Linked DNA regions of Homo sapiens. The protein of the gene in region 1 interacts with the protein of each later gene in a biochemical or structural test. Each region holds a gene or a part of one and is shown on either strand. Other genes may lie near its edges.

Region 1 (7,756 bases):
GATCTCCAACCCCATCCATATCAGTGTCTCTCTGGTCCACATTGTAGACGTACTGGCAGTTGTCCCGTTCATTGAGGATACCTGAAGAGAACAAGGGACAAATAAGAGCTGGGCTCTCCAGCCTTGGATGTTTCCACCAAAGTGCATACTAATAGCCAGGACTAGACAGAAGTACGTTTGGAAAGCTGTGCATGTCCCTGTCTCCCGCGGGCCCTCTGATCAGGCAGCACCTTACCGTCTCCATCAATGTCTGCAGCACAGGCGTCTCCTTCCCCATTGTTGTCTGTGTCTGCCTGATCTGGGTTGTGGTTGTAGGGACAGTTGTCACAGCGGTCTCCCACATCATCTCTGTCATAGTCATACTGAGCTGGGTTGTAATGGAATGGACAGTTGTCCTGCAAAGAGAAGAAATGGAGCACTTAACAATGTTGTCCTTGAAAACAGCTCAAGCCTCAAACCATGTGCATAATATGTCTAAAACTGTGAAAATCAGCAATACTTTCTACCTAGTGGATAGGCTAATTGATCACTCAGTGTAAAACGATCACTACAAAAGTTAAAAGGACATAGTTAAAAAAATGGATCCCTGTGGGTTAGAAGTTAGTGAGATGTAGAATATAATCCCATCATCTCAGTTCATAGTGTGCCCAAAGTCAATTTTACTGTAATTTCGATGTGACATTTGAAATGAATCTAGGGAACAAAGTGGCATTTGTTTATGCATTATAATTTCTCAAGTACAGAGAAAAACAGTTCTGATGAAAAACAAAACCCTCATTTAAAAATTCTCTTGGCAACATCTACATCCTTAAACTACTGGAACACAATGAATAATTTCTAATTATCCTGTGTATTGATTTGGTATATTTTTTGCTATAGCCATGTAATTTCCTTGAATCCCAAAGTGTTTCAGGCTGTTGCTGAACTGAAAAGATGAAAAAGGGATAGAAAACTGTTTTTACCCTGTCATCTGGAATTTTATCATTGTCATCGTCATCATCACAGGCATCACCAATTCCATCCTTGTCATAGTCTTCCTGCCCTGAGTTGGGAAGGTTGGGGCAATTATCCTAGGAAAGAGAAGATATATATCACTGCTTCAGTTGCCTTCCTCATGCTGAGCTCATGCACGAGGGAGTGTACCTGGAATTCCAAATAGAAAAAGAACAGAATTTGGCTCAGTAACAGCATATTTTTTTTATGGGAAGACAAGAAAATAAAACTTTTCTTGGGGGATATACATACAGAATTTGTGTAAATGCTCTAGGCTTTATAGATGTTGTGAACACAAGTCATGCTTTGCTGGTATTTGGATAGAGTACTGAACTTTTTTTTGGACAGAAGAGTTGACTATGGAACACAGTTGCCCAAAAAGAGCTAGCCCTGTTCATGTTTTTGGCACCAAGTGATTTAATTTTAATAGGAATTAGTGCCCCTCTCCCTTTGGGAGATTTAATCTTTCAGTTTCATGTCCAAACTTTAAGTATTTAAAATTCCTTAGCCTGTGTTTTGATAAGGTGATGGGCCCTCTTTCTGGAGGCACACAAAGGACCTGGCTCTACCTTTTTGCAGTGGTAAGTCGCATTGGCCACGCACACCAGGTTCTCATTGGGCCAGCCATCCAGGTCTGTGTCCTCCCCGCAGATGATGCCATTGCCAGCGTAGCCAGGCTTGCACTCGCAGCGGTACATGGGGTCGCTATAGTGGCCCAGGTAGTTGCACTTGGCGTTCTTGTTGCAGTCGTGGGTCCCATCCGTGCAGGGGTTACGGGGCTTGCACACCTGAGGGTACACCATGCTGCTGTTACACAGAGCTTTTGAGAATCCTCAGATATCATGGAAACAAGAATCCAGATCCCTGTCATCTCTGAGTAGACAGAGGCTCCATTTGGAAGAGTGTGGGTTACCTCTGTCCCTCCCCATTCTCCCTGAGGCTATAAGCAAACTTTGCTTTATGTTTATTTTTCTTGAATTTGCTCAGCACCTAGGCGTTTACAAGTCCATCTGCTCACAACTTATTCCAGAGCAGCATTTTTAAATATGGAAGACTGTTTTTCCCCTGCAGGATTTACCATGGATTTTCTAATCACGTTTCTAAAACTAGACCGTACATTCATCTCCTCGCCCTTTTTTTTTTGGTGAAGGGTATGAAATTACATTCCTCCCGCTCCCAGTTATTTTGGTCAAGGACAGCTCTCCTGTCCTCTGGTTTACTCGTCTAGTTGACTGTACCTGTTTGTTGGCCGTGGCATGTTCGACACCCTGGCCGAAGGGCTGTGAGCCGGTGAAGCGTGGGGGGCAGGGCAGGCAGTTGTAGCCGGGGTCCGTGTTCTCACACCGGTGCTCTCCATTGTGGTTGAAGCAGGCATCAGGCACTTCTTTGCACTATGGAGGAAATAAGAGCGTGCATCATGTTTAGAAGTCACTGCCATAAGGAAGCGACTGCACAGGTTAGCTGCTTTCCTAGATCCAGAAACTCGGAGCCCCATCAGTTCCTCACCTCATCAACATCTGTGCACTGGATGCCATTTCCACTGTAACCAGGGGGACAAGCACCACATTTCCAGCTGCCATCAGGGTAGCTAGTACACTTCACGCCGGCAAAGCAGGGATTGGACAGGCATCCATCTGAGACAAGGAGAGAGAGACAGTCACAGTAAATGGTTGGTCTAAGCTGCCATACTGCCATGCTGGGCACTTAACACAGTGTAAGATATTATAGGGTATAGGGAACCGATAACTTGTTGGGATTATGTTGTCCACCTGCATCTTAGAGCAATCAAATCGCTCAGGACTAACCAAGCTGGAATCTCCTCGAATGCTGACTGCAGCATTCAGTAAAAGAGCAAAGCTCCTGGGTCGTTTCATCCTGGGCTGCGTGGCTCACCAATTGGACAGTCCTGCTTGTTGCAGATCTGGTTTTCTGTTACATCACCAACGCAGTCCTTGCCTCCAAACTGGGGTGTGGGGTTGTTGCAGAGACGACTACGTTTCTGTACCCCTCCTCCACAGGTGACAGAACAGATGTCCCATGGTGACCAAGGACCCCAGCCTCCATTGACTGTAAGAAGATGAACCACAGGCAACAATTAAGATCAACTTTCAAATCCCTCCCTTGTCATAGACTCTCCTAAGCCCGTTCAAGAAACCTCTGCTTCTCTGACACATGGAAAGAATGCTGGGGAAGAGGGTGAGTTTGTTTTTCATTAAAAGAAGTTGCTGAGCCTGCAGGACTTTGCTTCTGTTTGTTTCTCTAGTAGGTAACCTTCCTGCTCTATGACCCACTGAACTGCAGGCTGCAGATGCCAGGCAACCAGCTGGGCAGAGCTGCTGCCCATGCTCACCCTTGCAGCGGACCTCACACTTACTGGGGCAGGCGTCTTTCTTGCAGGCTTTGGTCTCCCGCGCTTCGCCTTCACAGGGTTTCCCGTTCATCTGGGGGCTGGGAGAGTTGCAGAGCCGGATCCTTGTGATCACACCATCACCACATGTCACAGAACAAGATGACCACGGGGACCAGTGGCTCCAGCCACCATCCTGTTTAACTAAAGTACAGAGTTGATGGTCACAAATGGTTTTGGCTTAGAGACAGCCAAATAGAGGCTCCCATCAGGAGCACGCAGAAGTATTTCCAGGAAATGGTCAATGGCAACTAAACCCAGTGTACGGTAGAAATTGGCTCCTGGCCACATGCCCAAATGTCAACATGGAATGTTTTCTACCAGAGAACGGATAAGTTCGCTGTTTTTATGGGTTGCTGTTAATATCCTAACATTTACAGGGTGCTTACCATAAACCAAAACTCAGTGCTAACTGCTTTACATGCAGTATCTAAATAAAATGCTCAAGATAAACTTATCAAGAACTATTATTATCTCCAAGTTGCAAATGAGGAAAGAGCCTCAGAGAGGGTAAGTTGTGTTCAAGGGTGCACAGCTAAGCAGTGGGATTGGGATCCAGAGATCCTAGAACCCGTGTTCTTAATATACATGCTGTGGAGCTGCCCTTGGTGACGACAACAAGGACAGGTCAGTTCTCCACGTCCCTGAGAGGCTAAGATGCTTACATCTCTTGTCACACTCCTGAATGTGGCAGGTCCGTGTCTGGACCGAGGAGCCCTCACATCGGTTGTTGAGGCTATCGCAGGAGCGGCCGCGCTGCTGAATTCCATTGCCACAGCTCGTAGAACAGGAGGTCCACTCGGACCATGGAGACCAGCCATCGTCCGCAGAGTCGCTGGCTGCAGGGGAAACAGAGGTTCATCAGGTACGTGATGATTAGGACAAGCTGTTCTTTAGAGGGCTCTGTTCAGGGCCCTCCACTTGCCAGAGGGTGAAAAGCAATATATTTATTTCTTTTTGGCTTTACTGAGGTATAATTGACAAATATTATATACATTTAAGGTGTATAATGTGATGTTTTGATATACACATATATTGTGATTACCACCGTCAAGCTAATTAACACATCTCCATCATCTTACAGTTACTTTTTTTGGTGATGACTTAAGATCTACTCTCTTAGCAAATTTTAAGCATACAATCCAGTATTATTAACTATGGTCACCATGGTGTACATGAGCTCTCTAGAACATAATATGAGCCGGCACAAAGTTGCAGTTATACAGGATGAAAAGCAACATATTTCTTAGGCCAACGGCCCAGGGGTTTATCCCAGGTCATGATGTGTACAGCAGTGGGGTAATCGGATGCTTTGCCTGGCTCAGTACAGCTGAGCCTTCCCACAGTGTATGCTCTCCTATTCATTGATTTTCTTTCTCCTCTCAGCATTGCAAATGAGTTTTCCTTTACTGACTTAACATATCTGGGTAGGCATTTCCAGTCTCAGACTTCCAAGAATGCGCGAGTATGAGGAAGCTTATAGGAGTCATTTCTGTCAGGGGAGCCATACACCATGTGTTTGACAGATGAGTGTGAAGGCAGCCGAGCTGTTGTTGGTTCTGGCTCCAACTCGGCCGTGAGTTAGTCAGTTTGTTGTTCCTCTCACCCCAGCGTTTGGGGCCTTCTCTGCACATATTGTCATAAGAGGACAGCATGTTTGTTTACCATCTGCCCAGGCACCACGGCTACAATCACATCTAGCTGTATCAGACAGAAGACAAAGAACTTACTTTCTGTGGTCATTAGTTGTAAGTTTTCTTAGCAATCCCTGATTCAAGTTCAAAACTTTGCTACCTCCAGCTAGCTTTGTTCCTTTTAACGCACATGTTAAGTGAATGCGGAACAGAAAATAAATGTAAAAACGACCATTACAGTGCCAATATCGCTAATATGATCCCTGGATGGAATTGGTTATTCTGAGCTGTGACAAGGGTGTGTTTGTGTGTGTGTGCATGTGTGTTTCTGTGTGTGTGAAGGGCAAGTGCTGTTTTCCTGTTTTCTTCCTTATCTTAGTTGTAATGAATCACTTTTATAACTTGTACCTGCTACACTAAGTATTGTCTCAGCAAAGTCATTCATTTTACTGGTAACAAAAGCCAGGGATAACGTGCCATGGAACGATATCGTGCCTTATTTCTTTTGGTGCTCTAGAGCTCAGATTGCTGCTATTCTCTTAGGCCCTCTTATCCCTACAGATGAAAGGGGCAAAACTTCCAGGCCCGATCAGGCCAATGCTTACACAGTAAGCCTGTCAATATCTCTGGTGAGCAGATTTTTCTTAACTCTGTGCCACTAAGGTCAAATTCTAAAAGCAGTCAACTTAGAGCTGTTGCTGCCACGTCTTCATCTCTTTTCCTCAAAGCAAAAAATCAGAATTAATGAGCTATACCAAGATCTTCACTGCCATTACTGCAATCCAGATGGGTAATTACGATGTACTCATAATGGAGTTTTGGCTCTGTACAGCAGATAAGCTGTCAGTTAACCAGCTGCTGCAGCAAGAAACTGAATGGAAGCATGATGGAGATGGGGGTGGGGTTCCAGTGTTGTGCTCGGCTGTCTAGGATGTATGTAGAACTGACCTAGTCACTGAAGAATAGCTATGCCATTTGAGAAACTTACGCCAACAGCGAGGACAGCATTCTCCATCAGGAACTGTGGCATTGGAGCAGGGCATGATGGGGCAGGACACCTTTTTGCAGATGGTAACTGAGTTCTGCAGGGCAAGAGAGTGAGAGGGGAACAGGCTGCTGAGCATGTTGCATACAGAAGTCTACATCCTGTAACATTTCCTTTACAAGCCAAAACATGGTCAGGGCTGTCAATGCTCTAGTGGAATGATTTTCATAGATCTGTCTCTGTCATATTTGCAGCCACCACTATCGTAGAGACAGTTCTAGTGCTAGTTTACGTGTCACTCCATTCCTTGGAAAGTTCTTTTTAATTGCTACTTAGTCAAGGGTGGAAGTTACAGTACAAAGAATTTATAGCAGAGGAACCAACAAACATCATGGGTCAAATCTATGTCTGAAATCAAACTCAGAAAATTCAGCCAGGACTTTTACATTTTTATATTATGTGTTTGGGGGGAGGAAGGAAGATCTATAAGCACTTTTTCCTCATCTATAGATCTGTGATCTGTCTTTATATTGGAAAAGAAAGGGAATTTAATGAAGTTGGTTCCCACAGCCAGTCATCTGTGATTTGTATTTAAGCAAATTCAAATACTTTGCTATTAATAGATAAGCCAGGTGAACCTCCAAACTCACTGGCCACTGGCATGCGGGGATGCTAGAGTGAATCACACACCTGGCAGTGCCATCTGAGCAAAGCAGACAGTAACATCCTAACAGTGTCAGACTAAGTGATTTGAAAAACAATTGCTACTGTACTAAAAGAACCTATGCCAAAGCTGAATATAAATCAGGGTTGGGAAAAAAAAATGAATGTTCCAACCAGGTTTTATTTACCTGACATTCAACACTTAGTCTTTGAACTAAGGTAGGTAAATTATTCAGATGTCTTAGTAGATTCATTCTCTTAGATACTTAGCCTGGGGTATAATTAATACTTTGATAAACCATCTGAGAGTTTAAAGAAGAACTTATAGATGCCATAATTGCATCTTAAAGAAAAAAAAAACACTTTGTTATCAGGCCATGGAACATAAAAAGAATCTCTGTGGCGATTAGGGTATTTCCCCAAAGATGTAGGTTCAAACAAAAGCCGTCGATTCTTATTCTGGCTGGTGAAGGTCCCTTACCTGACAGTGACACTCAGTGCAGCTATCAACAGTCCATTCCTCGTTATTTCTGTACTGAACTCCGTTGTGATAGCATAGGGGAGGCCGCCTCAGCTCATTGGCCAACTCTTTGTTCTCTTCAGTCTAAATGGGAGAGAATATCATTAGTGTCCCCCCGCATTTTCAGTCATTTGGGACCATCTGCGATAAACCTTCCAGGGTTCATGCTAACGGGCTGGGTGCAGAGGCCACTGACCACTTTGCGGATGCTGTCCTGCAGCGTGGTCACAATGGTGCGCAGGCCCCTGAGTTCCAGGACCATGCTGGACAGCTCATCACAGGAGATGCCGCAGATGGCTTGCAAGTCCTTTGTCTTGTGGCCAATGTAGTTAGTGCGGATGGCAGGGCTGGAACCATTCACCACGTTGTTGTCAAGGGTGAGGAGGACACTGGTAGCTGGCAAGAAACAAAATGAAAACTTCAAATAGATACTCTTACCAACCAGCCTCTTGAGTTCTTAGTGGTAGAAGACGTTTCATTTGGTGTGAAGGATGCAGGTAGAGGGGTTGCGTGTATGCGCACGTGTGTATACGTGTGTGTGTATAATACCCCTT
Region 2 (7,756 bases), on another chromosome or scaffold:
GAAACATCATCGTCACCAACTTTGAAGCAGGCACACTTTCTGCTTCTGAGCATCATCAGAAGGCCCAGCCTGTCATGCAGACGTCCTCACTCTACAGGTTCCCTGGTGGAGCACTAAATGCCCTAGACTCGGGGTGTGGGGATGTGGGGTGGGAACTCTAAACTCGAAATGTATCAGCCTATCAGAGAACTCCTCCAAAACCCAAAATTTCCAAATTACTTGTTCAAGCCATCAGAACACCCCAGCTCTCTGAGGATCATGAGGAACGGGGACCTTCTATTTGCACATTTGCTGGGATGGCGGGGAGGACACTGGGGAGCAGGAGGGAGATCAGCTACTGTTTATAAAGGCTGAGCTGGAAAGGCTCTTCTCTCCTTCTAGAGTGTCAGAGCATCCCAGGACATCACCCCTCAGTTCACAGACCCAGAGAAGCTGCCCTGGGCTTGTGGCCAGGCCCAGGAGAGCAGCTCAGGCTCCTGCCCCGTGCCTTCTCATCCAGGCCATGCTCATCCCTGTCCACACTGACACCCTGTCTTCCAGAACCACCAGCACAGCGAGCGCCCTGCGTGCCTTGTCACCTGTCCCAAACCTGCTTCTCCTACAAATAGCTGTTTCTTAGCTGACTCAACTAGTATCTGGCTCCAAACAGCACTAAATGAGTGACATAAGCAAATGTTTCACTTTGTCAGGCTTAGTGAAACAACATTTCAACAGGAAAGAGAAAATCAAATCAAAGAAGACAATAATAATAATATAATTTACATTTATAAACTGTATTTGTGATTTTTTTGACATTGTGAAGTTGTTTTTTTTTTGTTTGTTTTTTGTTTTTTTGGTGTTTTTTTTTTTGGTACAGTGTCTTACTCTGTCGCCCAGGCTGGAATGCAGTGACACGATCATAACTCACTGCAGCCTCAAACTCCGGGACTCAAGTGACCCTCCTGCCTCAGCCTCCCAAGTAGCTGGGATTACAGGCACCCACACCAGACACCCAACTCGATCTTGTGGTTTTTAAAGTGCTTTGAAACAAATATAGTCTTATATGATTCTCTTAAACATATTATGATGAAGGGGGAATTGTCAGCCTGGAATAACTGAATCGTTCTCTGATCATGAATGTGTATGAACTGGTGAACATTAAGTGAGTTCTAGGAGTAACAGAGTACCTCATTTCAACTCTTTTTCCACATGAGAAAACGGAGTCCTGCTGCCTTTCTCAAGAGCACAGCTAGCATGTGGCAGGGCTAGGGTTGAAGATTGATGCTGTCCCCAAAGCCCTTGAGCCTTTCATGTGATAGACAGTTCCTCCCCACTGCCATGCAGTGGCCATGGCCCATAAAACCCAGACATAAAGCAAATATCTTCACCAGCGTGGGGTGAAGACCACAGGTGAACGAGTACCTGCTTAGCTTTAGCAAGGCAATATCTTTTCGTGTGGGCTCCAAGAACAGCCTAGACACTTCTATTTCCTGAACATGCGGTTCGAGATTCACTTCTTGGTGTGCACCCAGGATGACCTTGTAGGATGAAGGCCTTGGGGACCTAGAAAAGATGAGGACGTCAAGAGGAAAATATGGTCCAGCCCCTTCAGGTAACCTCTGTGCCATGAAATTGGTGCTGTCTCCCTGACACCCTTGGCCACTCAGAATTAGTGACTTCTGAGTGGCAAGAAGCAAAATTCATGATTTGCTTGAAACAGGCAGTTAAGGAATGTTCTTGGGCTGTTTGGGCAGAGACTGATACAGCCTATGGTAGTGAACAGCTCTGTTCTGCAGTTTATTCAGGCCCACAAAATCATCTGTACTGTGTCTTTCCTCTGCAGTTTCTTTCTAGAAACCCTTCCCTTCTCTCTTATCCAATTGCCCTGGCCTGGTCCCTAGTGTCACAGCCAGAGAAGGAAGGGAGGAAGAGTGAGAAAGGAAAGGAGGAAAGGAGGAAAAGAAGGACAGAAAAAGTATTTAAGACAAGACTTCATGTCAATTGTCCCCTAAACATACTTCTCCAAGCAGTGGGCAGCAGTCAACACCCACTCTGGGGATATCAAGGTGCCTCCACAGAAGTGCATTCCAAACCTGGAAAGAGGATTTAGTTCAAATTTTAGTTAAATTGATACTTTGTTCTGCTCCATTGTACAGAAAGCCAGAAAGACACGTTCACTTAATTTTGACCATGTTCATATTCCCAAAGGAAAGGACTGCAAGCCCAGCATCAGGATGGTAGTAATTTTGGCCAGTGCTCCAGGAGTGGGATTTTTGAGAAGGGCCCATCTATGCCAATTTTTCCGATGCTTGGGGGAGGCACAGGCATGGCCTGTCCACAGGAGAGCAAAGCTAAGTAACTCCGCATGAAGCTCTACAGCCACGGCTTTCACCCCACAGCCCAGGACTCCAACAGAAGCCACCAGCCCAAGACCTTCCCCCGAGGCCTCTTTCATTTTTATGACAAGATCTATGTAAGGTCTGATGAATCACTCTTCAAGGAGCCAGATGTGATCCTGAGCAGCAGTGACTCATGGGAGTCTTCTGATCTTACCTGAGAAACTTTACTTTTGGGGAATGTTTCCTGAATCACTTACTTTCTAGGACTGCGTAGGCAGGTAATAGCTCAGAATAATGGTGTGAGCCATTTGGAACCAAATTTAAAGAAGAGGAATAGAGATAGGAAGTGCATGATGGTAGCATGTTGATAAGTCAGTGAGGACGTAGACCACCACATAGTTTAGGAAAGAATGAATCTGAAATATGTGGAAGGTGAAAGCTCTGTAGAGCAAGGAGTTACTAAATGATAAAATAAAGAAAAATCGACTCAACAGCAGAGTGAAATGCAATGCGATCAGGTTTGTCGATGGCATTTCACAAACTTATGGAAAAGAGTCTCTTTAGGGGAAAACAGCAATTGAGCACAGGCACCCTCGTGTAGAAGTGAGATGAGGAAGCAAAACAGGCAGACGGATGGGCCTGTTTCCTATGCTTGCTTCCTAAGAGATACCCAAGAAAATGGAACTTATGAAAGGCATGTTCCACTGAAACAATACCCAAAATGTCCAGGTTCCCTGGGATTGGACTGATCACTCTTCATTTATGGGGATCATGACCTAGAATTTTTTTGTTTGCGAATGGATGAGTAGCCTCTGCATTGAATTCAATGATTCACGAAAGTGTCCAAAGAAAAAGAATCTGTGCCTGTGATAGACTGGAGATAATTTTGTCCTTGCTCTCCCAACCCAGAAAGTGTCACATTTCTAAAAACTTCCCCCTCTTTTCATCTGACAATGAGACAATGGATATCCATAGAAATCCTCAGAGCATCTTCAGTATTTTCCAGCAATATTGGAACTTGGTGCAAATCACTGTGCCTACAGATTTTGATGGAGCTGCCCAGATCAAGAAAAAGACAGCAATTTTTGTCATTTTCACAGTAGAGAACCTATAAAAATATATATGTATATATACATATATTAATTTTTGTAGCTTTTTTCCTCCTTCAGAAAACTTAGAGGCAGGTGCTGATGCCTCAGCTGTGTGGATTTTATGTAAATGTAGAAGGGTTTTGCAGGGCTTACGTGGAGGGACAGTATAAATCGTTTCTGGGCCTGTTCTTACCTTGTTCTAAGACTGACTTGCCAGGGCCAGGAATGTGGGTGGGCCACACACCCCCCTACAACCCTTCCAGGACATTTCTTCGGCTCCACTTGAGGCTTCCCACAATCAAATGAAGGGGCCGCTGTGGCACAAGGTGGGAAAGAAATCCCATTTGAGACAAGGTAGCAATTTTGTGGTGTAATTCGAGACAAATTCCAAGCACTGAGTTTTTGACATCTTAAAGGCCGAACTAAATAGTAAAATCATCATCTTTTGGAACATTTTCTCTAAGTTTCAAAAGTGGTAGTAGACAACACAGGACCCTCTCTTTTCAAGAAAATATAAGCACTTTGTAATTATTTTGTTGGAGAAGTGATCAAACAGACTGGTATAGTTTAGCATCAGAATGAGATATTTTCTGAGAAAACCTTGATTGGGACAAATGGTTATTTGTCATTGTTATTCTGACTCCATGCAGTATGTTTAGAACATGATGCCATCCTTCCCATAATCATCATCATCACCATCACCATCTAAACCATGTAAAGTTTACTGAAAACCATAATTGTCATCACTGCTGAAAGGCACAAAGGTTTATTTTTCCATGTGAGTCTCTGTGTGTGCACGTGTGTGTGTGTGTGTATGTGATTGTATGTAGCAAGGATTACTGTCCTAAGTTGAAATGTTGCCTTCTGTCAGCCAGCTTCAGGACAGCTCCTCTGGGGAGCCTCCCATGACTAACCAACGGCCGTGGGGGTGACTTAAACATATGACTTTATTCTTCTTTTCCTCCTCCCTGCCTTCTCTCTGTAGCCAGCCCACAGGGTCTCTGGAGGTAGGGACAGTGTCCCATCTTTGGTACCATCCACCAATGCCTACAACAGTGCAGGGGCTGCAGAGGGTATTCAAAAATGCTTCTCTGTTGTCTCCAGCCCTTCAAGGTCTTCACAAATGTAAATGTTAATATTTTAAATAATTGTTCATACAATTATTAGTAACAACTGTAAGAGGAAATTCCTTCCCAACCAACCAGAGATTCTATGCTCTAGTGAATCTGGAACCTGGGTTTTCCAAATAACTTTACATTTGCCATGGGCTGTTCTGAGAATCTATCTATGGAAGCCTTTTTTTAAAAAAAGAAGCAAGGCATAGAATGCAATCATCTTCTCTAGTGCTGAGCTCAATTTCTGCTAGTATGCCTTACATACAGTAGACATGCATCGTTGTACTAAAAGAGTAACTACAGAAATGATGGTACCCTGCTCCTACTATTCAAAACAAAACTGAATGTTTCTATTTATTTTTGCTTATTATTATTTGTACTGTATATGTTGGTGGAAAGGAAATAGTTATTAAAATCATTCACCACCAGAGGCTCTAGCTTTCTCAAGCACGAGTCAAACCTGAATAAACCATATCCTTCTGCATGAAACAGTCCTCAGGATTTCCAAGTGTCTGATGGGAACGCTTCTCACCAGGCTTGGGGTTAACCTCACTTGTCTCACATCAAGGTTAGGTGGGGGACCTCACAGTCCTTTGGGAAAAATCTTGTTCCCATTCTTCCTTCTTTCTCCAATCTCTAAGAACCTGATTCTTGTACATCCTCAATGTGGGTGAGGACACCAGAATTGCACCTGGGAAACTACTGCACTTCCCTTCCATGGGAGTCAAAGGTGCATGAGTCCCAGGCACGGTAGTGGGGTCTGAGGCAAGAAAATCAGTCTGGGCTCAACTTCAAGGCAGCCTGTCAAGGATAGAGAGCCCGGGCAGTGAGAGGCAGTGGTGTGTACCAGATGGGGCCAGAAGTGGAGAACTGGAACTGACTCCATCGAGGGACTTTGAGTTAGAGGTGCCACCAAGATGCTTCTGCAGAAAAAGTCAGCTATCAACTCATGCTAAATCCAGAGATCACAATGCCGCATTACAATAATATTGGCCAAGTAGAATCTTTCATACCATCCTAACCCCTCCTTCCTCCCTCTTGGTGTCCCTAGGAGAAGCCCAAATGCGAAGCTGGGCAGTGTGGCTCCCATGATCTTCATCACTGCCCTGTACCACCTTCCCAGGCAATCTCAGGATGCTGGTCTTCAGTGGACTTGGAGGCCAAGCTCCTTCCCCCAGCTCAAGGTCCCTCCACATGGCAGACCCAACCACAAGCAACCAAATTATGCATAGGAGAAGTCCAGGGTGGTTTTCTGTAACTAGGACAAATTGATTGGTCAGCAGAATGTTAAATATGGGACAATTCCAAGTAGCTTCCTTTCTTTTTTTTTTTTTTTTTTTCAGAAATACCCATGGATTTGTTATTCCAATTCTTTAAGAACTAATGTCAACTCCCCTTCCCCTGATCCAAGCCTCATACTCCCAACAAGAGTCTCAGAGCAATGAGGATGGAACCCAACAAGCAGTCTCTAAGCTATGTCACTAATGTGACTTGTGAGTAGTAAACTTATAAGAAAGGCCATCTGGGGCTAAAGAGCTGCACTACCTTTCATTGAATTCCTAGGATGGCCATCTGAGGTTTACAATGTGCGTTACATGCTTACCTGTTTCCTGCTGTTTGTATTTTCTTTCTTACTTCTCAGCTGTGGAAAGGGAAAGTTTTTCATCCGAATGACTCTAAATTTTTCATGCATCCCACGCTAGACATGGCAGCATTCAGTGGGACCATCCTGGGGCTGACTAGATTACCTCTAAGCTTGCTCTTTGGGAATTTTACATTTATTTTATTTATGTGTGCCTGGGGCGATGGGCAGGTGTTCCTCTAACAAATGTGGCCAATAGTAGGGCAGATTCAAGATGCCCATGATGAAGAGTGGGGTCTGATGGAGAGGGCAGCTATCTCCTCCCCAGAAGCAGTCTGCTCAGAAGCCCTTTTCCTTTTTTGTTGCAAATCCATATTAAGTAAGCAGTTTCCTTACCAAAAAGAAGGCAACCTACCACACTGAGGGACATCACAGTAGTCGTAAAGTTTTCTTGGATTTGTCGTGTAGCACCAGGGACCACCTACATCACCATCAGGGTTACGGCAGTACTGAAAACAAGAAGGCATGTAAGCTCCAGCTCACGTGGGGCAGGAGAGGGAGAAGGTGTTCCAAGGCTCACGCATTTCATGTCTATCCTTAGAAGACATAAAGGAGTGTTTCTTTTTCCTTCCTTCTTTTTTTTTTTTTTTTTTTTTTCTGAGGTGGAGTTTTGCTCTTGTCGCCCAGGCTGGAGTGCAGTGGCATGATCTCAGCTCACTGCAACCTCCATCTCCTGGGTTCAAGCGATTCTCCTGCTTCAGCCTCCTGAGTAGCTGCAACTGCAGGTGCACGCCACCACACCTGGCTAATTTTTTTTTCTATTTTCAGTAGAGATGAGGTTTCACCATTTTGGCCAGGCTAGTCTCGAACTCCTGACCTCAGGTGATCTGCTTGTCTCAGCCTCCCAAAGTGTAGGGATTACAGGTGTGAGCCACCATGCTCAGCCTCTTCTTCCTTTCTATTATTATTATTATTATTTTGGCAAAGTTATTTTTTGAATGCTCTAAAGCCGTCCTTCCTGTGCCCCTGTTCAAAAGGAGCTATGAGGCCACACCCCTGGACAGGGAGTGGTGACCCTCGGGGGTCTTTGGAGAATGGGTCTCCCTTCAGGAGCCTGACCCAGTGGAGGCCTTAGAGCCCCAGCACCAAAGGACAGTGGGACATCATTGATGTGCATTGTCCCTGGAGGGCTCAGCGCTCTCCTACCCGATGAAGCCTGTTTGCTGTTGATTCAGAAACATTTATTTCCATGCATTGTGCGCCCTCTATGGGGCAAGACACAGAAAGGCAGTGTTGTCCTCCCCTTCATATGACACTGTGGTAGAATAAGAAACGTATATTTGGTCTCTGCCCCCCAGTTCCTGACACGGAGCTCCTAAATCCCTTGGGGGTTCCTGAGTGAAGGGAGCATCTTTTGTTTGAATGAAGCAACTCTTGGTGGGTTCTTGGATAGTCTCAGGATGGGGCTGGTTGCCAAAGGAACCAACCATGTGATTGCAGGGTTGGAACTGTTCAGCCCCCCACGTCCAACTTCCAGGGAGGGAACAGGAGCTGAAGGTGAGCTGGTCTCCAATGGCCAACGATGTATTCAACTGTGCCTCTGTAATGAAGCCTCCATAAAAACCCAGCAAGACTGCACTTGGAGAGCTT
Region 3 (7,756 bases), on another chromosome or scaffold:
GTTTTCTATTTACAAAATGATTCAGCTTAGAAAGGAGTAGAATGAGACTGGTCATTCAGTAATTTCTCCCACCCACCCTTGCAGACATCACATCACAAAGACTGTGACTCACTTTGTCATACAATTTCTATCCTCTTAAGAGTTTTTCAGATTGTTGTGATGAATACTGGGTCATAAATCTGAATAAATTTTCAGATGAAACTATCCATGCCATTTCATCACAGCCCAAAATATTAACAATGGTACCAGACAGTCCCCAATACTAACTTTTACAATGATTCACTGGTTTTAGACCTGAGTAAGAGAGAGACACACTGACGTAAGGATTGAAGTGTCTGAATCAGGTATGAATTCCCAGGTCTGCGTTCCTTAATTAGAGTACTATAACCAGTTCTAGAACTGAGCATTAATGTTGGCTAGAAATATTAATATGTTACTTAACAGCTGAAAAGTTTCCAAAATAAAAAGTGATCCAACAAATGACTACGCTTTGCCTTTATTGCTTCCCTTGAATAATGTTAAAGGTGTTTGCAGAAAAGAACTACAGTGCTGTTGCATTCAATTTACCATTTTATATGCCTCATACTATAGTATTTATACTTATTTGAAGTTGTTGCCCATTCAACAAATATAGAGTGAACCTTTTCATGGGACTCAGACTGGTCACTCATTCAGCAATGAAGCCAAAAGGACCCTGGGATGAGTAAATTCAGCCTCAGACCCTCAGAATAGGAAAGAGTAAAGAACTACTGGGTAATGTGGTCTGGATTTTTTAAAAATAAAAATTTCTTGCCAGCTAGGAATTTCCAGTAAAACTGGGGGACATAAAATTAAAATACAACAAGCTATTAGAGAGAATTTTTAGATAGCACACAGAAAAGGAAAGATGGATACAGGATGATGTGAAAGAAATAAGGCCCAAAGCATGACTGGAAATGGGATAAGGTACGAGGACAGACAGGACATTTCAGCTTAAGGAAAACTGCCTGGTTAAAGGCTAAGATGACAAGGAAGACAGGAGACGTGAAGGGAAGGTCAGAAAGGAAGTTAAGAGACTTGGCTAATTTATTGAGTACATCTTCAATTTAACAAACATTCTTTGAGTGGCCACTGTGTGTGAGGATAGATGCAGCAAATGGGATCCAGTGCTTGCCTACAAAGAGTTCACAGTCCCAGTGCAGAAGCCAGACACATAAACCACTAACTATTACAGAAAGCATGAAGTTCTGTGTTCAGACTATGTACCAAGTATATGGGAAAACAGTAAAAACCATTAATTCTCCCTGGGAAGGTAGAGGAAAGTTTCACAAAGAAGTCTGTTGGGCTGGATCTTAAAGGATTTTTCCAGAGAAAGGTGAGGATGGGAGGAGTTGTGAGAGAGAAATTGATAAGAAAAAGAAGGATTTTTCAAAAACAAGAGTCACATGAAGAAAGGCCAATCATTGTGACAGTAATCGTTATGACACATTAAAGAGACTATAATTAAAGCACAGAGTGCTACAGCTTCAGGAAGGTATGGATGGTAAACAGTAAGAAATAAGGTAGGTCATGTTTAAGAAGGAAAGCCAGGTAGGTCTGGTTAGTGCTTAAAATTGCAGGAGAGTAGAGGTCATTAAATCAAGAGGCAGGGCAAGGAAATCACTATGGCTGGGAAACATTTTAGAGAGATATATACGAAAGAAGTAGAGAAAGGCATCAAAGACAATTCCATGGTGTCTAGCTTTGGAGACAAGAATAATAATTCACTACAAGCAGAAATTCAGGAGGAAAGGGTGCTAGTTTGAGAAAATGGTGTTAAGTTCTGTTTTATGTATGTTAAGTTGAAGCTATGGCAGTGTGTCTGCCCTCCAAGCAGTGGGAAATTGAGATGGGGAATCAAGACAGAGACAGAGACAATACATGATCTTCTGAAGGAATACAAGTACACAGAAAGAAGAGTAGAAGGCTAAAAACAGAACCTTGGGGGAATACAAATGCAAAAAAAAAACAGAAGAAAGTGGAAAAAAAGACAGTTGGATGGGCAAAAGTATAACCGCCTGAGGAGTTCTTCCAGCCTGCTGCACAAGGAAAGACCACAGCATTGCAGTAAAGAAAGAGTTTAATAAACACAAGGCCGGCAAAGCCACATGGGAGATAGAGTTAGTACTCAAACCAATCTCATCCACAGCTCATGGGATAGGAGTTTTTCAACAGCAGTTTGGGGGAAAGGGTGAGGATTGCTATGCAATGGGTGCTTACTGATAATTCATTGGGCTGAAGATGAAATAATAGGGGGTCAAAGTTGTCCTCTTGAGTGGAACCATTCCTGGGTGGGGCCACAGGAGTGGTTTAGCAGGTCCAGCTGGAGCCATGGGTGTCAGACATGCAAAAAACCTGAAAAGATATCTCAAAAGGCCAATCTACAATAGTGGTGTTATCTGCACCACTATTGGTGCACTAGTGGCAATCTATTAATACGTCTACACCTTAGCACAACTCAGATTCCTGTCCTCCCCTGAAGCCTGAGGGCCTTTCATTAGCTTTATAAAGGCAGTTGAGTTTTGGGGAAGGCTTATTATCCTTTAAACTATCTCCCAAAGTTATCTGGGCCTAAGCCCAGAAATGATTAAGGCAGCTTGAAAGCTAAAGGCAAGAGGAGGGGAGTGGGCTAGGTCATATCTCTGGCAGTGTCATAATTTTCTCAGATATAACTTTTGCAAAGGCAGTTTCAAAAGGAGAACCAGGTTGATGTGATGTAATAGAAGCCAAGGAATTATCAAGAAGTCAGAGGCAGACAATACTGCCACATGTCAGAGTAGCATGAAAAATTGGAAAAGGCCACATGATTAAATTAGAAGACTACTGGTGCTCTCATAAGAATGATTTAAGTGGAATACTGAGGGCAGAATCTAGAATTTAAAAGAGTTCAAAAAAAGAAAAGGAGATGATGTAGAAGAACGTACTGATTCCAGGATATTATTCACAAAAGAAAATAAGAATGAAAAACAATGCACAGCATACCTGAGAAAGTTTTATATTGCATAGTGAGACAGGACAGCCAAGTATAAAGGGGTCCCTGGAGAACCTCCAAATGGCCTGCACACTGGGAGAATGGGGTGGAGCCACAGAAGTTCACGCCCTTTGCAGGGAGGAGACTGGTCTCTCCTGTTCGGGGTGGTAACTTGGGAATCAATCTGTGAGATGGGGGCCTGTTAATATGAACCCCTATTGCTTTGCTGTGTTGTTTTTCCTTTTTTCTTTCTGACCAATAAATTCCATAACCCCTCACCCTCCAAAGTGTCTGTGAGCCTAATCTTTCCTGGGCGTGTGACAAGAACCAGGATTTTCCTACAACAATAGTACATGATAAAAATCTTAAATACTTTTAAGGAAATCAGAATTCCCAATAAAAGTTCTAAACAATTTTTCCTGAAAAATGATTCATCTTTCTCTAGATTATTCTAAGAAAAACTAATAGCCAGTCTCCAAAATTCCGAAATGTTTCCCAAATATAACTTTGCTATATATAATTATCTTCATTTAAAGATTGACCAAGTATCTAAACACAGATGTCAAGACACCAAGAAAACTGTAAACTTTGACCAAGCTTTATACAGCATATGCCTCATGAGTAGTTATTTCACAGCAAGTTCCACAGAGAATGTTTTCCTCATCAGCTGACATTTAGTGAGCACTCTCTGAGTAAAAAGTACTGAGCTTTTTATGATGTTTATTTATATAAAGAAGTCATGGTTCCTACCTTAAGGTGCCAGCATCTTAAGGTGCCTAAATTATGAACAGAGAATAATCTGTTCACAGAATGCAGCCAGATCATTACTACTCTGTACAAATTTCTTTTAAAAAATACTTTTTTCTTGGCTAATTTGAGTTATCATTTAATTACAAGTTTTCATTATAAATTAATGTATAGCTTAATTATAAATTAAACCAGGATCATTCCTTTCAATTGTTCAATTATATCTGGAACATACACTTAATATTCACATAGCTTCTCTTCAATTTTTAAATCTCCAAAATACCTTGAAAATCTGTGAACTTTTCATTTCAGAATTCTATTGGATAATTCATCTTAGAGGTTAAATTGCAGAAGTCAATAGCTCTATAAAAATACAAATACACACATACACACACACACACACACACACATCCATTATACATTTCTGTAAATGAGTAAGTATCAAAGATACACCGGTCAAGTCAAAAGTCACCTTGTGCAGGAAGAGTGACAGAAGACAGCTGGATGAGACATAAACACTGAATATTGGCTGTCTGTTGCCTCCAGGCCCTTCCAATTTCTTCAAACTAAAAATATTCTGAAGGTGTTTAGAATGAGACTGGTCTGGCTTCTAAGAACCACAGTCTATGGCTCAAAGGGTGAGTTCCCCTGGAAGTTGCCACTTTTCTTTTCCTCCTCTCCTAAATTCCTGTGGCTATACATAACCTAGCTTAAAAGGCCTTGTTGGCGGTCATTATTAAAGGGAGAAAAGAGAAAGCAGGAGCTAACTGAACAGTGGATACAACAAGGAAACACTTAAAATCACAGTGCCATAAGTGCATTTTCTAATGATCCAGCTAAAACTCTACACTGATAATCATTATTCCAAATTATTATGCAAACAATCAAGCATTAACTATTTATTGAGCACTGACAATATACAAATTAAGTACTAGACCAGATCCTAATTTCAGAGCACAGAAAAGGACAAACTCAAAAATAAAACAGAACAAAATACATTTGTTTGGACAGAATATCCTGATGAGGTTAAGATTTGTGCCCCAGGCTGGGCACGGTGGCTCACGCCTGTAATCACAGCACTTTGGGAGGCTGAGGTGGACAGATAACCTGAGGTCTGGAGTTCGAGACCAGCCAGGAAAATTCATGGTGAAATCCCGTCTCTACTAAAAATGCAAAAATTAGCTGGGTGCGGTGGCAGGTGCTTGTAATCACAGCTGAAGCAGAAGAATTGCTTGAACCCAGGAAGGAGAGGTTGTAGTGAGCTGAGATTGTGCCACTGCACTCCAGCCTAGGTGACAGGGTAAGACTGTGTCTCAAAAAGAAAAAAAGAAAAAGATATGTGCCCCAAAGATACAGATTTGCCTTGCTCCGTTTCATGGTCATAGACTTTTATCCCATGCCAGCCTTCTTACAGACGTGTGCTACGGGACATAGGGGCCCAAGTAGGGTATCTGGAAAATCAACAAACACTAGAATTGGAAAAACAAGCAAAGACTACAGCACATGTGTAATTACCAGCTTGTACAGGCATCTCGTGGTTTTAAAATAGTAGTTCCAATAATGTGAGACCTTAAATTGTCTTTTCAACATCACTGATGATGAGTTCTCAGAATCAGTGTATAGATGAAGAAAGTCAATTTTATGCTTATGATATTTAAAGAACCGTTCTTGTTTTGTTCATTACATCTGTAACATTTTATTTTCTAATTAAACTTTAAAATTATGTCCTTCCACATAAAATGGCATCATAAATCAAAATGAGAATACTTAAAACCCAATTGTTACACCATTGTCAAAGTCTAATTACATAACGGTCATTTTATAAACAAATGAAACCCCTCAGGGCATGTCATGAGGGGATATTGCCTTTTCTAGGCTGAAGTCACTTGGCATCAAACTCATCTTAAAAGGCTCCTAAGGTGTGGTAATATCTATGACTCATGAATTGTCCTTTCATTGCTGTACTGATTACATGATTTCCAAGATTAAATGAGCTATTAGATTCTGACTTCATTTGTTTACTGCACCCAATATTTATTACAGTAAATATCACGTTCATTAAGTAAAATTATTGCTATCCACTTGCCAGATATTACCAAAGAGAGGTGGGGGGAGAGAATCTAGTACGTGTATTATTAAATCAATGGTTCTATTTACCCCAAAGGCAGTAGTGAAGAGATGGAAAGGTGGCTTTATCCAAAACCCCAGGAAATCAACCTGAGGCACCCGTAAACTAGTAAGAACTCTTCAAAGGGGCTAGCAGCTCACTACCCTGAAATGGAGGAAGCCTAACCAAAGTGGGGTCCAGCAGGGCACACTCTATGGTGGAATGAAGAGCGCACTGAGGCTGAGGGATGGCAGGAAGAGAAGGCAAGGGACCAGGTGGTAAGAAGCTCATTCAGGATAAAAAAAGAGGAAACCCACAAGTGAACTTGAGTAATTGGTGACTTTTCTGAGCTTCAGTATCCTCTTCTGTAAAAAGAGATGGGTAAACCAGAAGGTCTGAAGCCTCCCTTTGATTTCACAAGTCCATGTTTTTATGCTTGGGGTTGCATGGAACACATGCAGTAGCAAAGAGCCCAGGGGTCAGGCCCACCTACAAGCCACCCCTGCTCCACACTGGGGTGGGCAGGTCTGCCTTTCCAAGTCTCAGCGTCCTCTGGAGCCTGCAAGCAAAGAAGTGTGGCACACAGGCAGTCACCTCCTGGGAGAAGCCCAAGGGTAGATACAGTACTTCTAACTACTCTCATTTTTTTTTTTTTTTTTTTTTTTTGTAAATAAGAGCACCTGGAATAAATTGAATACTAAGTGTACATAAGCAGCATACATTTCACTTACTATACTCTACCACATGTTGTACGTGCTGCTTGGGATAAAGTGTTCTCTCTTCTGAATGTTTTTACACAGCTTGCTACTTTAGAGTACATACTTAATATTATCCATTCCCACCGCATTGAAAGAGGCCTGCCAAAAGTTAAGGATGCCAAAAGAAAGGCAGGAGTGCAGCGCACATGCTGGAGAAGGAGAAACTCTCTAACCACTTTTAACATCTTGTTTTTATCAAGACTCTCATGTCAAATGAAGATTATTCCAGGACTATGAGAAAAACGCCAGAAAATGGGCCCTTTTGAGTGCAAATTCAGGAGAATGCCCAGGTGTGAAGCACAGTTGACCTTCAGCAACACTGAAAAATTGGAAACATTTGTGTTGTGTCATCTTCTCCTACCTCTTCTTTTAGAAAATTTTCCTCTCTTTCCTACCTCACAGCTTCCCACTCTGCCTCCTCTTCCCCTGCACCTCTCCAGGACCCCATCATTTATATCACAGTCTTCAAAGCATCCCTCCCCAAACTCCAGTCCTTCTGGCCAGCTTTTGGGGAAGAAATTGCACTCACAATTTAATCCATACTAAATGTTAAAATCTGATAATGGTTGAACTTGGCCTTTCAAAAGTTACCTGCAGTTTAGAAAACATGTAGGCACAAAGTGTCATGCCAAAGGAAAAAAAATTCCAGTGACAGATGTTCAGGTCAGTTGGACAAAACAGTCTGAGGAATGAGACCATAGATTTTTCAACTTTTCAAACAGGTCTAGAAATCTGAGCCATAATGTAGTAGGAAACTGTGGCTACTATTAACTCTTCTCCATGTTTTCTGGTCAGTTTTATTTGTTTTGGGGGGTCTCCTCATGGTTTGGTCAACTATCAGTAAACATCCAATATGTGAGAAAATAATATACTGTACTTAAATTTATGTCCAGGTTGGGCTACATAGAAATAGATGAAATTTGTCATTTTTAGATTTGTATTCTTGTCAGTCTATTGCCTGGTACAGGTATCCTTTAAAAAAAGAGTAGTCTCTTTGGGGACTTGGGAAGAAAGGGTGGGAAGTTGGGGAGGGACAGGACTACAAACTGGATTCAGTGTATACTGCTTGGGTGATGGGTGCAACAAAATTTCACAAATCACCACTAAAGAACTTACTCATGTAACCAACTACCACCTGGTCCCTAAAACCCTATA
Region 4 (7,756 bases), on another chromosome or scaffold:
CCGTCCAGCCTGACAGCCCCTACGTCAACGAGCCTATCTGTCCCTCTGGCTCCTTTCCTTTCTCCCTGCCATCTCTGGAATGTCCCTGGTGGGGAGGAGATGGGGAAAAGATGCGCTTTGTGGAAAGGTTAAGTTGATTAGGAAAAAATAGCCACATGGTTGCCTTGAAACAGGCCTGCTATTGAAACCTCATCTCCAAGATCCCGACCCCCACCAGGGGTGTGGAGGGGCCGTCTGAGGGTGGGGGTGTAAAGGCTTGGAAAGAAATGGTAGAAAGGCTAAATTTGGAAGTTGCCCCATTGTGTGTGGCCAGGGGCGGCCAGTCGGGCATAGGGTGGGGGTTGTGGGAGACATCGGGTGGGGGCCCTGGCGAACAATAGGTGGGCCCAGCTGGGGCCCCCTCCTGCCTGCCTCACCGCCCCCCAGCACAGGCGGGATTGAAAGGGCCCGGGAATGCTTTTGAGAGGGAGCCAGGGGCCCAACGGGGAGAGGAAACAAAGGCAGGAAATGCTGTTCCCCCGTAGATAGCGTCTGGGCAAGGATTACAAAGTGACAAAGAGACAGAACCCCAGAGGGAAGGGGACCTGGGGGTGCAGGGGGGCTGCTGACCAGGGCTCCAGGGAACAGGCCAGAGGTTAGAATAGAATGGAATTTGCTCTGAAGACAGCGTTTATAAATACATTGTCAATCCAGCCCGCCAGCCCCGCCACGTGTGTGCCACCGAGCACGTGCCCATTCGCTGAGTGAGCTCTGGGGCACGGGCAGGGCTGCCTGCTGGTCGAGGCCAGGTGTCCCCAGGGGACCTCACAGACCGGGCCCCTAGCCAGAGGGGCGGGGAGATGACTCCTCCAGTGCCACCCTCCCTGGCTGGGCCCACACCTGGAGACATACTCGGCAGATGCCCTGGGCACCTTCTCCCCGCCCTCCCTCCTCCTGGCACCCCACCCTTGGCACCAAGCCGGAGCCACACGTGGGTGCTTCTCCTGCCACACCCCAAGTCCCAGGTACCAACCCGCCTGCTGACTCGGCCCTGCCCTGGATGGGTGTGGCCACGCTCTCTCTGGGCTGCCATGGGCCTCTAGTTCTCCAGACGTCAAGAAGGAGGGATGCCTCCTGTCCTGCCCCTCCCAGATCTCTTAAAGTCTCCTCGGAGGGCCGGAGCGCGGGGCGAGGATTCCATTTACCTCCGGGGTCTCCGTGCAGCAGGCGTTGGAGATCATCAAAGGAGCGGATCGAGTGGTCACTCAGCATCTCATAAAGCTCCTCGGGAATGGGGTCCCCCTGCCGGGCAGACACCAAAAGGCTGAGTGAGCTGGGAGTGGGGGCTTTCCAGCATGGCTGTCTCCCCCACCACACGCTTTCTCGCTTTCTCCTGTGGAAAGCTCCAAGGTCACAGGGAGACGGACAGGCAGGATCCAGGCCTGATGATCAGGAGCACAAAGGCCTCGGGGCCTGGACCTGCCGAAGCCTCTGAGACCCAGCTCAGTCCCTGCACCCTCAACCCCCAACAGGAACCCCAGCTTGCTTTGAGTTGGACCTGCTTGTCTCTATGTCTGTCTCCCCCACCAAACTACATGTTCTGGGAATGCACCAAAATCTGATTTCTCCCTGAGTCTCACAACACACCTGACAGCTGAAGACAGCCAGCATCTCCCATGGCCAATCTAACCCCCATTTTACAGAGGGGAAAACAAACGTTCAAAGAGAGGCTCAATTATTGGCAAAAGCTGCATTCAAACCCATGCCTTTGGGATGACAGAGCCTGTACTCCCAGGCTCCTGGGTACAAGAGGTGCTTAATAAACGCGTGCAGAGTGCGATGGCCTCAGGAGGCCCCAGGTCCTAGCGGTATCTATGAAGTCTCTCACTCGAAAGAGGCGAAAAGGGAATCCTCGGACACGGCCGGGAAACCTGAAAGCTTACCCGTGCCCTGTGCCCAACCAAACCCTATTTTTAGAGCCCCTTTGGCCTGTTGCCAAACATACTCGAAACCTGATAACACTTCAACAGGCCTCATTCGGAGCTGGGCTTCCTCCAGGGAAACCGCAGGTCCCACAATGACACAAGAGCAGCCCCGTAGGAAGGTCACAGCCACGTCCCCCACAGTCCCAGGAGACCCAAGGGGCGGATGCCAGAGATCCCAAGAAAGAGGCGAGGGCAGATGGGAGACTGAGAATCACAATCCAGACCACCAGCCACTGAGAAGCAAAGAAAATTCCTAAGATGTCGCTGCACGTTCAAAGGCTGGAACCGGACTTCCACGTGTGCAAACACACACGTGCAGGCACAGGCACTCGGGCTGCACGGTCTGGACAGACAGTCCTGGAGAGGGCATCAATAGGCTTGGCACATTACTATAGAACCTTGGGTTAAACTATTTTCTGCCTCAGTTTCCCTGGATTAAGAAGGGAGGACTTCCCTTCTTGGTTCGCTCCACATTCCCGGAGCCGAAGGTCGGGGGGCTCAGAGGGGGTCGGTGCAGGCTACCTTCACAAAAGGGATGCTGCTTTCTCGCTGCCTGACGGCGGAGGGGGAGCGAGGGAGAGGAGAAGAGGTCGTCTCAGCCCTGTGGCCAGCCTCAGGGGGCTCTCCCCGAAAGCTCTGTTTCCTCCAGCTTATCATGAGGTCTAGCAACACCTCCAGGGGTTCATCCATGACCAACTCTGGCCACCCACATCGATCCAGGAGCCAGAAGACTCAGGGCGGGGGGTGGGGGTGACCACTTTTAAAGCTACATCATTCCCTGAAACCCCTGAGTCTCCATGTCTTTGTTTGAACATGGAGCTTACAACTCCGCCCAATGTCTAAGGGCTGCTGGGCAACTTGAGGAAAAAAAGGTGGCAGGGCTTGGCTGAGAACTAGGGTCTTTCCTTCAATATCCGGGCAGCCAGGGGCTGCACGTGCAAGACAGAGGAGGGTATGGGCCCCGCTGCCCCTCACTTTCGGCCCCATCTCCTCCGGGCTCTGCCTCCTCCCGCCCTCAAGCAAGTTCATTCTTTCCACCTCAGAAGAGAGACCACGCCTCCGGTGCTCTCCAAATGTTGACAAAGTACCCAACCCACAGAACAGAGGGCTTGGTCTCCAGTGAACACCAGCGAAAGCCGCTTCCCCTGAGAGTTCTGTCAAACCCAGAACTGGCAGGCCAGAGAGCTGAATCCCACGCCTTTGGACCAACTGCCGTGTGACCTCGGCTGGTCACTGCCCCTATGGTCCTGGCTCTCATCTGTGAATCGAGGGGCTTGAAGAACATTCGATTCAATTCTAATTCTGCCAGGAGGCGTTAGAAGGGGCAGAGAAAACGCCAAAGCCGGGTGCCTAGCCAGGCCTCCCTGGATCACTGGCAGAAGGAGAACAAGAAGCGTTTGTGGAGTAAAGATTCAATTAACCCCCCAGGGGAGGGGCCCAAAGGCCTAGTAGCAAATGGCATTTAGTGCTTGTGCCAAGATCTCCCTGCCCACTGGAGAGCCGGCTGCAGCTGCCAGCCACGGCAGAGGAGGCAGACCCCTGAACAGGCCGAGTGGACACCCCAGATCCAGGCCCACGACACATAGGAGATGCCCCTCCAAGGCTGAGTGTGAAAGAGCCCAGGATAGGGTCTGAGGAGGAGAGAGAGGCACATAGTAGGTCCTCGGTAAATACTGGTCAAATGCATGAAGGAGTCTACCATTTTCCAGGTTCTGTCCAGTATGATTCTTCTGCCTCCTCCACCAGGAGGGCCACCTGGGATATTCTTCCCCAACCCTAGGCAAATGAGCAACTAGAGTCCCTTTTAATCTGAGCAGGGAGACCGTCCCTGAAGATGCTTTTGGTAATGTGGCCACTAGATGCCCAGAACTACCCATAAGCCCCCGGATTTGGTAATAATACCACAACTAACATCTATGAATGCCAGCTACAAGCCACACGCTGAGAAAAACACCGTATAAACTACCAATCCTAAGAGGCTGGCAGTATTTGTATCCCCATCCTCCAGATGAGAACACTGAAGCTTAGAAAAAATTAAACAAGCAGCAACAGGTCCAGACAATTAGCAAGTGGCAGAGCTGGGTCGTTCCCAGGCTCCAGACTGCCCACCTGTTCCAGCCCACCATGGGGCGTCTCAGCCTCCCTCTCCTGTGTTCTAAGGCCACTGGCCCTCAGCATCACACAAGGTTCGTGTTGGCTCTTTACTCTGCAGCATGTCCCACGTCAGAGGCTCTCAACCAGGGCCCAGTGGGCCCCCAGGGGACAGTGGCAATGTATGAAGGCATCGCTGGTGGCCACAACTTGGGGTGTGCACTGCATCTTAAGTTGGGGGAGGCCGGGGATGCCGCTCACCACCCTTCAGGGCACAGGACGGCCTTCCCAAACATCAGGAGTGCAGAGGCTGAGAAACCCTGTAGCGGAGGAAAGAGCAAGGGCTCCAGATGCCAGGGCAACCTGGATTCTTGGAATCTTGTCACAATCTAAAACCTCGGCTTCTGCATCTTTTAAATGGGGCTAATAATACCTCGCCCGGGGTTACTGGGAGGCATAATTGCACAGAGCAGAGCTGCCAGCAGATAATGGGAGCTTAATGAGTTGTCACTGTCATCATCATTAATTCTTTCCGGATGGCTCCTTTGTGGGCAGCAGCGAGTGGCACACGTGCTCAGGGCCAGCAGCACAGGACATTTTTGAGGATGACAAGGAGTGGGTGGAGAGCTGCCTGCCCATGAAAGAGTGCGTGACTTTGCATTATCCCTTGTGCTGGGCCACAGGAAATGGTACCCTACCTCCACACTGGCAGAGCCTGGGCCGTGTGGGCTTACAAGGCCCTTCCGGGGCTGGGGGTGGGTGAGGGTGGGGGGACACTCAGCACGTGCTCAGCTCCAGGATGCAATGCTCTGGGGATGACGAGCATGAGCACCTGTTGGGAGTCACAGGCTCTTCTTGGTATGGGAAGGTGAGCCGCCCGGAGCCTGGTTTTCCTGGGCACAGGTTCCGCAGGCCTCCAGGTGGACAGCTCACTTCAGAGATGGGAAAGGAGGCCTGGCACCCTGAAGAAGCTGTCCCAAGATCTCAGGCCCGGGGTTTCTGGCAGAGTGAGGGCGTGGCGAGGAGGCAGCTGGGGCAAAGCCAGCCGTGGGAGCCAAGGTAAACAGCCTCCTCCGACCCCGCCCCCAGCGCCAGCTGCAGCAGGTAGGAAGGGCACGAGCGAGCGTGAGGCCAGGTGAGTGATCTGCTCCCAACCAGGCTGGCAGATCAAAGGGGCTTGAACCCCACCCTCCTCCTGGGCCCAGCACACACACACAGATACACACTCCCCGGCCCGCCTGCCATTCCCACCAAGGGACACACAGGCCCAAGCAACCAGGGGCGTTGTCTGTGGCTGGCAGAGGAAGAAGCTGATGAGGCCTCCCAGAGCCTGCCTGCCTGAGAGTCGCAGGCCTTATTTAGATCGAATGCCAAAGCCAACCAACCCCTTTGAAGAAGCCCTCTCGGGGCAAACCACAGAAGCCATTAGAACCAGTGTTTCCCACCTAGCATTCCCCTTCTTTATTGCTCTTGGGACCCTCCCGCTCAGCCTCTGCTCCTTCACGTGGGCCCAGAACCCTGGCCTCCCCACCTCTTGCAGGAGCAGAGGAAAATTAAAGCAGGAAGAGAGGAACCAGTCCAGCCATTTATAATACTGGCAACCACGGCAATCACTGCCCATCCCCATCCCAGCCAGGGGACGGGGCCAGGGGATTCTGCCATTCTTTGGGAACTCTGCACTAATCCAATCTTCTCTCTCTCTTTTTTTTTTTAGGTGGCAGAAACTTAGCCCCAGCTAAAGATACACAGAACCTTTGCAGTCTGATTTTCTTTCTGTTTCTTCTCCTCTGTCCTGTCTAATCCTGGTAGCCCAAGTCCCAAGACAGAGGAGAGACAGACATGCTTCTCTCTCAAGATGGGGGGCTTTGAAAGACTGATGCCTACCAGAGGGCTGAAAAGGGGGGCTGCCCTCGGAGCAGAGCAAAGCGAGGACTCAGTGGGGCCATGGAGCAACAGGGGGCCAGGTCCTGCCCTCCCCACCAACCCAGCACTAACTGTTCTTTGCACTAATAGTTACTGATTGTCCACAGGGCTCTGGGCACTGTTCTAAAAGTGGGGACCAGGAGGAAAGCTCTCTAATGGGGTTGACACTCCAGTAGAGAAAGCAGGTAATAAACAATGAAATAAACCAGAACATAGGAAGAGTTGTCACAGAAGAGGCTCCTCAATGTGGGGAGGGGAAGACAAGACGTGGAGAGGTACTTACGAGGCCCATGATAAACATCTCACCATTCCTGCTCAGTCAGTCTCTCTCTCTCTCTCTCTCAGATGCGCACACACACACACACACACACTCTCTCTCTCTCTCTCTTCCTGGCTCTTGCACCAGATCCTCCAAATTCTGTTTGACCTGCCCTTGCACACCTCCAGGGCTCTGGGATTCCAGCAGTTGGTCTCCTGCCCCCTAGGGCCATTAGCAAAGCCAGAGGAAGCTGGATGGCAAAGGGCAGTGGGGCCCTTCACTCTTTCCCGGAAGAAGTGTGCTGAGGCCAGACGCGTCACGTGACAGTGGGACTCGCCCTCCTGGAAGCCAGCTCAGCTGGTGGAGATGGCACCTCAGAGGCCTCGGCAGGCCCTCCACCCAGCCCTGCCTCACGGCTGCCTGCCGTCTGCTGAAAGATTAGTCCGAGCACGACCAGGACGTGGACAGCTCCAAGGCCACCTCCACCAGCAGGCCTGCCCTGACTCTCCCAGCACTGGCCATTACAGCTCCTTCCTGGACTGACCCCTGCGTGGTTCCATCCCCATGCAGGTCCCCTCCCCCAGGGCCAGCCTGAGGCTCACTCAGGCTTAGCAGCAAAGTGCTTCATAAACTGCAAAGTGCCACATACATCGCGCCTGTGGCCATGTGTTCAAGAATGCTGTGACTAAAGTGAGGAGAAAGGCAGTTTCTGTGCCACAGCCTCCACCCCAGATACACGAGCCCGTGGAGCTGTGGGAAAGAAGGAGGAGGTGCTGGACGAAGCTGGAAATGGTAAGGGGAGGCTGGGGAAACATCCAGCTGTCAGCGGCCTCCCCGGGGCACGCTGGGATCAGCCAAGAGAATGCAACAGCCAGGGGTGGGAGCCCCCTCCGCGGTTGCACACGCCAGGTCCCTCCAGTCTTGCAGGTTCAAATGAAGGCTTATGTGAAGGGGGAATCGCTCTGGACAGCTCAGTGCCCCTCAGAGTCACATCACCACCATTTTCCACCACGCGGAGGTGGTTGAAAAAAAGGAGTCACAGATGGGTAAGGTTTGAGGGGCGTCGGGCTGACGAGGCAAAAAAAAAAGTAGGTGCTGTGGTGCTGATGGGAGGTTCTCCCTCCCTCACAGGACGCCAGGAAGGAAATGGGGCCGCTACAGAGGTGGTGAGGTGCCAGGGCCCACGGAGGGCCCACCTGTTGCGCGGGGGCGAGCACCAGGCGCTGGGTGCACGGGGGCCCGTGCGTGCCTGTGTACGTGCGTGGGTGTGCGCGCACGTGTGCTCAGGCCGCGCGTGCAGGGGCCGTGCGTGCGTTTGTGTGCGGTGCGCGCGCGTGTGTCCCGCGTGTGCACGGGCGTGGCAGAGGCGGGCGCGCGACCTGGCCGCGGTAGTGCGTGCCCGTCGCTCTGCGCGCCCGCCCGCCGGAGCGCAGCATCGCCTCCGGCCAGGAGTGTGCATGCGTGGGGTGAGTGAGCGAGTCGGGGGCCCGGGCGGGGTGGGCTGCGGAGAGCAGCCACG

What was found.
Region 2: the proteins of THBS1 (region 1) and PLG form a complex in vitro, tested with the Homo sapiens proteins (2 studies listed by BioGRID).
Region 3: the proteins of THBS1 (region 1) and FGF2 form a complex in vitro, tested with the Homo sapiens proteins (one study listed by BioGRID).
Region 4: the proteins of THBS1 (region 1) and PDGFB form a complex in vitro, tested with the Homo sapiens proteins (one study listed by BioGRID).

The regions. Positions count from the first base shown.
Region 1 is NC_000015.10:39,583,830-39,591,585, reverse strand, and holds part of THBS1 (thrombospondin-1 precursor), read right to left. Parts: intron 7,599-7,756; coding exon 7,399-7,598; intron 7,287-7,398; coding exon 7,164-7,286; intron 6,117-7,163; coding exon 6,023-6,116; intron 5,461-6,022; exon of another isoform or gene 4,333-5,460; intron 4,240-4,332; coding exon 4,066-4,239; intron 3,545-4,065; coding exon 3,368-3,544; intron 3,061-3,367; coding exon 2,887-3,060; intron 2,628-2,886; coding exon 2,500-2,627; intron 2,385-2,499; coding exon 2,232-2,384; intron 1,782-2,231; coding exon 1,563-1,781; intron 1,071-1,562; coding exon 963-1,070; intron 396-962; coding exon 236-395; intron 82-235; coding exon 1-81. UniProt on the Homo sapiens protein: Adhesive glycoprotein that mediates cell-to-cell and cell-to-matrix interactions.
Region 2 is NC_000006.12:160,732,854-160,740,609, reverse strand, and holds part of PLG (plasminogen isoform 1 precursor), read right to left. Parts: intron 6,616-7,756; coding exon 6,522-6,615; intron 3,724-6,521; coding exon 3,603-3,723; intron 2,073-3,602; coding exon 1,998-2,072; intron 1,543-1,997; coding exon 1,402-1,542; intron 1-1,401. UniProt on the Homo sapiens protein: Plasmin dissolves the fibrin of blood clots and acts as a proteolytic factor in a variety of other processes including embryonic development, tissue remodeling, tumor invasion, and inflammation. In ovulation, weakens the walls of the Graafian follicle.
Region 3 is NC_000004.12:122,829,570-122,837,325, reverse strand, and holds part of FGF2 (fibroblast growth factor 2 isoform 18 kDa), read right to left. Parts: intron 1-7,756. UniProt on the Homo sapiens protein: Acts as a ligand for FGFR1, FGFR2, FGFR3 and FGFR4. Also acts as an integrin ligand which is required for FGF2 signaling. Binds to integrin ITGAV:ITGB3.
Region 4 is NC_000022.11:39,234,594-39,242,349, forward strand, and holds part of PDGFB (platelet-derived growth factor subunit B isoform 1 preproprotein), read right to left. Parts: intron 6,535-7,756; exon of another isoform or gene 6,420-6,534; intron 6,317-6,419; exon of another isoform or gene 6,280-6,316; coding exon of another isoform or gene 6,262-6,279; intron 1,282-6,261; coding exon 1,185-1,281; intron 1-1,184. UniProt on the Homo sapiens protein: Growth factor that plays an essential role in the regulation of embryonic development, cell proliferation, cell migration, survival and chemotaxis. Potent mitogen for cells of mesenchymal origin.